Linked DNA regions of Homo sapiens. The protein of the gene in region 1 purifies or fractionates together with the protein of each later gene. This does not show direct contact. Each region holds a gene or a part of one and is shown on either strand. Other genes may lie near its edges.

Evidence for each region. Proteins that work in one complex are often made in the same cells at the same time.
Region 2: the proteins of PFDN4 (region 1) and PFDN1 purify together in Homo sapiens (affinity purification with mass spectrometry; 6 studies listed by BioGRID and IntAct, with this or other methods). This does not show direct contact.

The regions. Positions count from the first base shown.
Region 1 is NC_000020.11:54,210,952-54,214,705, reverse strand, and holds part of PFDN4 (prefoldin subunit 4), read right to left. Parts: intron 356-3,754; coding exon 248-355; intron 1-247. UniProt on the Homo sapiens protein: Binds specifically to cytosolic chaperonin (c-CPN) and transfers target proteins to it. Binds to nascent polypeptide chain and promotes folding in an environment in which there are many competing pathways for nonnative proteins.
Region 2 is NC_000005.10:140,296,472-140,300,225, forward strand, and holds part of PFDN1 (prefoldin subunit 1), read right to left. Parts: intron 1-3,754. UniProt on the Homo sapiens protein: Binds specifically to cytosolic chaperonin (c-CPN) and transfers target proteins to it. Binds to nascent polypeptide chain and promotes folding in an environment in which there are many competing pathways for nonnative proteins.

The DNA.
Region 1 (3,754 bases):
TCCACCGCCAGCCAAGTTCTCCGAGACTTGTTCCTGGAACCTCGGTCTAGACTCAAGCTCCTCAACAACTCTGTAAGTTATCGCATATCCCTTAAAAAAAAAATGACTTTCTGCTTAACTAGAGTGGATCGCGTCATTCATCTGCAACAAACAGCCCAGAGAAATATATATTCACTTGTTAACTGAGTTCAGTTTTAGTAGCTATAGTATAAAAAAATTTTATTCTTCTAATAATTATTTTCAATACCTTTTTTACTTCTATTTCTTCCTTCAGCTCTGTGATTCTACTTGTATTCCGTGCAAATTTGTTTATCTTTTGTTGATCTTCGAAAGTAACATTGACATCTTCTGCAGCCTGAAAGAAGTGTTTAAGTTTTTGTAAAATTTTAACGGAGAAGTTATCAGTTAGCTTTTTATATTTCTCAACAATAACTCAATAAGCCATTTGCACTCATATAGTCAAGAATCACAAGAAGTACAGAACATAACAAATGCCTTATTTTTTGCTCCACAAGCTTAAGGTTTGTTTGTAAATCTATAACCTTTTCTGATACTCCATAAAATAATTCCTAAGCTATAAACATATTGCAAACATAAAGAACAATTAATAAGTCCTTTTAAAAGGAAAGAAAAAAAGCCAACTTTTGGCACAGAGCAGAATTTCTCAAGTTGGAGCATTCTTTCATTAAGATGACCCAGGAAACAAAAAGTTACATGGTCAAATATATTGGTAAATGTCTCAGAGTAGTGTTTTTTTTTTCTTAGAGCTAAAACTTGCATGAGCTTACTGGCTAAAGGGTCACTGTACATTTCAGTGGCTCTATTCCATTCACAGCAAAAATTATGTTTATAATGTAGGACCTGTTTAAATGTCTTAATAAGGTCTACTTTACTAAAAAATGATGAAAATTGAATGTTTAGTATTTAAAAATTAATATTTAATGTGATTAAATTTACAAATTTGCAAATAAAGAGTACTTGGATAACATAAAGTACCAATGAAATAATAAAAAAATAGCTAACACTGATTGAATTTACTATGTGCCAAAACTTCCTAAGTACTTTATTATCTCTGCTAATCCTGCAATCCATCTTATTAGGGAGGATCACCAGCACTATTTTACAGATTGAGAAACTGAGGTACACTTTATATAATATGGCCAAAGCCACAGAGCCAGTAGGTGGTGGAACTTGATTTCAACCCAGGCAGACTGGCTTCAGAGGTCAGACAGGTCCATGAGTTCTCGGTAACTGAATGTGAACGTGCGTCTCTGTGAGTGTGCACGTGTGTGTGTGAGTGTGTACACAGGCTTAGGCACATCTGGAAGAGGCAGCAGGATGTCTGCTTTCATCAGATTCTCAAGGAGGTACCATATATTTTTAAAAAATAAAGCTAAAACATAAAACCAGACTCTCCTTAGGGTTTCCCTTCCATTTATAAAATGAAAACCAGAGCACCTGATTCTAGTTTAAAGAAGAAAAGATATTTGTGTGTGTATAAAAATAGTTCATACTGAAACACTACTTTTGGCTCTTTTGCAGTAACAGTAATGAGCTCACAACATTCACACTCCATCCCTGACCTGGTCTCTCATGACCATCGACTTAAGGTATGTGAACTTTTATTTCTCAGAGGTTGAAAGGCAGTGTCAAGCAATACAGAGCTCAGTGGTCGGAATATAACACAGTCCTCCCCTTTGTTAGGCTCTCATTCCAAGAAACAATTTCACATGCATTATGCCCCACCTCAACAACCCAGAAGATAGCCTGAAAAAATCCTTTACATCACACTATGTCTAGCTTTGAGTGTTCAACCGTATGCATAATTTTGATGAATATGGAAGTTGGGGAACACTGAGCTACGCTCAAGAAACCAAAGTCTATATCTTGGCACACAAGTCATTTTGCCTAAGTGAGAACTGTCAATTCCCTACGCAAATAGACAGCAGAGAATTCTGAAGAGTTCCTGTTTGCCTGAAGAGTATATGCCATTTTGTTTAAATATTGAACCCCCAACAGGCATTTATAGATGTATTTGTCTTGGTGAGGGCTCAACAGAGCCATTCACATGAACGGATCCAGTGCAGGACTGCCTGGCACATAACTAAGGCTAATACATGGTTTCTGAATTTGAATCTAAATCATGCTTGATCAGACTCAAACACATAGTTTCCAAAATGTGGTAGAGAGAATTTGGCTATCTGCTTTCTGTCTTTCCAAAGCAGGAATTTCCTGTTGTAGCCCCACCAAACCACAGGCATCAGCACACATGTGGCCCCTGGTATCCAGATCTTTACAGTGGTTTTCCCACTGGGGTTAAGGGCTAAAGTTGATGTGTGAGTCAAATATACTGCATGCCGCCCAGTGGAGTGCCATTTACAGCAGACAGTAAGATGTCAGTGCCTTTGATGGCTAACAGAGGCTTCTGTTTTAGTCTCACTGTCCTAGAACATTCCTACATTTCTTGAAGCTGCATTTTGGCAAGAAGTGGGTAATTTTTTTTTTTTTTTGGTGAGACAGAGTCTCACTCTGTCGCCCAGGCTGAAGTGCAGTAGCATGATCTTGGCTCACTGCAACCTCCACTTCCCGGGTTCAAGCCATTCTCCTGCCTCAGCCTCCCAAGTAGCTGAGATTACATGCACATGCCACCATGTCCGGCTAATTTTCGTATTTTTAGTAGAGAAGGGGTTTCACCATGTTGGCCAGGCTGGTCTTGAACTCCTAACCTCAGGTGATCCACCAGCCTCGGCCTCCCAAAGTGCTGGGATTACAGGCTTGAGCCACCACGCCCAGCCAGAAGTGGGTAATTCTTAACTGGGGGGTGGGGGTGGTCAATGGACATTGACAGGTCGATATACCCAGAGACTGTATGCAAAATGGCATGTATAGTATGTGCATCCTTCTGGAAGGTCTTCATAGCTTTCACCAGATTCTCAAAGGGATCCACAACCCCAAAAGGTTAGGAACTCCTGCCTTCAGGGAAACCAGCTGTAGCTACTCTCAAAGTCAGAAGAACTCTAGGAAGAACTCATATCCTATAGTATCTGAGGCAGCACACAGAGTGGTGGGAAGAGTCAGGCTGCAATCCAATCCAAGCAAACAGGAACCTTGGGCAAATTACCCAATTCTTTGGAACCACCTCAGGTTTCTCATCTGTAAAATGGAGAGGCTAGTTCCTACCTTATAGGGTTGATAAAATGAACATGTAGGAGAAAGCCTGATGATGGAGTCAGTCAAATGATAGCTAAGCATTTTACATCCTGAATATTGTTTATCAAAAATCATTACAAAGAACAGATCCAGATCTAGAAAGAAATTCTGCTAGGCCAAAGAGAAATATGCCTGCTCGGGATCCAAAGTAAAAATTAAAATTCCCTGGGCTCTTTTCTTGAGAACTAATATCTTACGGGATTAGAGGAGGAAACTGAACCATACTCAGTCATGCCTCACACCAAGTCTAGGTATTACACGGAGTCTGCACTGACAGCTGGGTCCCTAGAAATAAATTCTGGCCAATTTCAGTCTTTTATTTTTACTTTTAAAAACATATCTACCAAGTCTGTATGATGTAAACTTTTGCTTTGTATTTGTATTCAACCTTCTTTGTTTGTTTTTTTGTTTTTGAGACGAGTCTTGCTCTATCGCCAGGCTGGAGTGCAGTGGTGTGATCTTGGCTCACTGCGACCTCTGCCTCCCAGGTTCAAGCGATTCTCGTGCCTCAGCCTCCCGAGTAGCTGGGATTATAGGCAAACGC
Region 2 (3,754 bases), on another chromosome or scaffold:
CTACTATCGCCAAGGAAAGAGTGAATGAGTCTGCCCCAGGGGCTGAAAAAATCTTCAGAGGCAAAGTAAGAGTAGAGCTATGTCTTGAAGGATAAGAATTTCACAAGGAAAAGAGGAATATTGCCAGCCAAGGACAATGTTATTCGCCAAAGACTGAGCAAAAGCAAAAAAGCACAAAAACATAACATGTGTGAGGAAACCTATGTGGCAAGGGTAGGATAACAATTTCTAGTACATGTGCTACTACTCTTCTACCCTCACTGTGTAACAGACATCACTAATCAATTAAAGCATGTTTAAAACCCATTTGACATCTCAAAATTCTTCTCAACATATAACACAAACTAGTAGAAGGAGGTAGGTCCATGAGATGAAATATACATGCTATCCTAACCCTGGAAAAAGAAAGTGGTGGGACTTGAGGCAAAGGGTAAATTAAGAACAGATTATGAATAACCATGAATGCAAGGCCAACAAGTTTAGATTTTATCCTGTGGACAACAGAGGATGAACAAAGGACTTTAGGAAGAATATTGATGTGATTAATTCTGAAAGATATGTGAAGAATGGATTTGGACAGACAGAATGAAGGCAGGAAGAAAGAACAGTTAAGATGCTATCATAAAAGTCCAGGCAAGAAGCAATGAGACCTGAATTTCAGCAATGGGAAAATCTACTGCATGTTCTAAAAGAAAAATGAAGTTTTGGATTTTATTATAACCATTTTATTACGGTTTTAAAATGAAAATTTGGGAAAAAGTAATATTCTAGTCAGAATTCCCAAATAACACTCAAAATGGAAAAGAAAAAACAAAGTAAGGTAAAGACTAGAATTAAAGAAGTGAATCACAATGATACCCAAAATTACTCGACTATAAATTCAGAAATAGATATCTCAGGTTTAGCATCAAGAAAGAGAACATCCTCATGACCAGACTAATACTCAGCAAGTCTTTTCTTCCTCTCAGGGCACTAATACGCTAGCCAAACAACAAACGCTATTCACCTTACATGCCCCTACAATACAGGGTCAAACTCATACTCCCGGTGAGATGCAGACAGCACTAAAGTCAAATTTAAAACAGAAGTCTGAAATCATGTAGAAGCTCAACTTTATCCAAACATTTAAAACTCCACACTTCTTTTAAGAAACGTAATTTATATGAAATAAACCTTCTGGAAATAATACCATTCTACTATTTATTAATTCATATCCTAGCCTTTAAACTCCAAAATTCTTGGTATGGAAAACAACTTATCTGTAGCACTTTGGAAAATATGTACAAAAAACAACTCTCCTAACACTTCTGCAGAACGTTTAATAAATGAAACTATTCTAATTAAAAATTAAAACTTCACTGTAGCTCAAAAGCCCAAAGGGAGTAAAACGTTTTTTCTATTTTGAAAAAGGAATTCTTTAGCTATTGCAAACAAAGGCTAGCGCAGTGATGTGAAATCCAAGTACAACATGTTAATAAAGCTGGCATTACTGTTTTAAGACCTAAGGATATTCACATTAAGGATAAAATTATCCTGTAGTGAATGCCAACAATGCATTTCATACTACACAGACACATATTCAAGGGTTCTACTTTGTTCCAATTCTTTTGTGTCCCAGTAACAAACTCTCAAATTGGGATCCTTATCCTCTTAAACTAAAATGAAATATATGAGCTTGGACATAAAATTTACTTGTGCTACATTATTCATTCTGAGAAAGCAAATCAGATGAACAATTTAACATAATCTAATTCTGAACCATAAAGATATGGATTAGTCAGTGATGAGCAGGTCTACTTCTCATGATGTCATTCCAAAGTCATTATTAAATTTTACACATGTTATTCTTTCTTCAAATCAATCACAAAACAAGTCATCCCGAGACTGAGGTCAAATTCCATTCTAACTAAAAGATCTCCAAATCTGAAGTAATGGTCTACTTACTAAGTAATACTCAAAGACCAAATTCCAGAAAAACCCTCCTCCTGTACCTCCCCCCAACTTAAAAAAAAAAAAAATCAGTCTTCTCCTTTTAGCTCACTGTAATGGAATGTGACCTGTACTTAAGGGCTTTTCCATTCCTTTTTTTCTGCTTACAGAATATGAAGCAGACCTATTCTCTCTCACAAGGGCAATATGCTTTTAAAAGAAAAAAAAGTGAAATGTACGAAGTTAATAATGTATTAATTAGAACAAACAAAAGTAAAATAATTTACTAGATTTCTCACATGTGAGTTGTCCTCCTATTAGAACAATGCATGACACTTAGAATGAGTGTATTTTTTACTTTTTTTTTTTTTGAGGCAGAGTTTCACTCTTGTTGCCCAGGCTGGAGTGTAATGGCGCAATCTCGGCTCACTGCAACCTCCACCTCCTGGGTTCGAGCAGTTCTCCTGCCTCAGTCTCGTAACTGGGATTACAGGTGTGCGCCACCATGCCTCGCTAATTTTTGTATTTTTAGTAGAGATGGGGTTTCACCATGTTGGCCAGGCTGGTCTCAAACCCCTAACCTCAGGGGATCCACCCACCTTGGCCTCCTGCAGTGCTGAGATTACAGGCATGAGCCACTATGCCTGGCCAGAATGAGTGTATTTAAATGACAATTGAATTTTTATTTTTATTTTACAACACTGATCAGACATCTGAAAGATTTATGATTTGTATCACTCCTAATAAATTAAGCAGGGAAGAGGAGGTTAAAACTGCACCTACTTAAATAAATCTTCTTCACATACAATATAATATTGCTATAAACATTTTCCATGACAAATCATTTTTATTACTGAACTTACACTTAAGTACCTAATCATAGACAGAACAGGAAAGTAAGCACTTAAGAAATGTACTTTGAGGCCAGGGGCGGTGGCTCACGCCTGTAATCCCAGCACTGTGGGAGGCCAAGGCGGGCGGATCAAGAGGAGAGATTGAGACCATCCTGGCCAACACGGTAAAACCCCATTTCTACTAAAAATACAAAAATTAGCCGGGCATGGTAGCATGCGCCTGTAGTCCCAGCTACTCAGGAGGCTGAGGCAGAATTGTTTGAACCCAAGAGGCGGAGGTTGCAGTGAGCCAGAATCACACCACTGCACTCTAGCCTGGCAACAGAGCGAGACTCTGTCTCAAAAAAAAAAAAAAAATGTACTTTAAAGTCTAAACTTAAACACTTTAATTAATCTACCTGAAGTTCAGCTCCTCATTTTAAAAAAAGAAAGCATTTAATTAGATAATCTTTAAAGTTATTTCTAAGATACTTTAACCTGCCGGGTGTGGTGACTCATATCTGTAATCCAGCACTTTGGGAGGCTGAGGTGGGCGGATCAGGAGGTCAGGAGTTCCAGACCATCCTGGCAAATATGGTAAAACCCCGTCTCTACTAAAAACACAAAAATTAGCAGGGCGTGGTGGCAAGCGCCCGTAATCCCAGTCACTCAGGAGGCTGAAGCAGGGGAATCGCTTGAACCCAGGAGACGGAGATTGCAGTGAGCCAAGATCGGGCCATTGCACTCCAGCCTGGGCGATATAGCGAAAACTCCGTCTCAAAAAGAAAAAGATACTTACTTTAAACCAAAGTTTCTTTTGTTTTGAGACAGAGTCTAGCTCTGCTGCCCAGGCTGGAGTGCAGTGGCATGATTTCGGCTCACTGCAACCTCCACCTCCGGGGTTCAAGCGACTCTCCTGCCTCAGCCTCCCAAGTAGCCAAGACTACAGGCAAGTGCCACCATGCTCAGCTAATCTTTGTATTTGTGGTAGA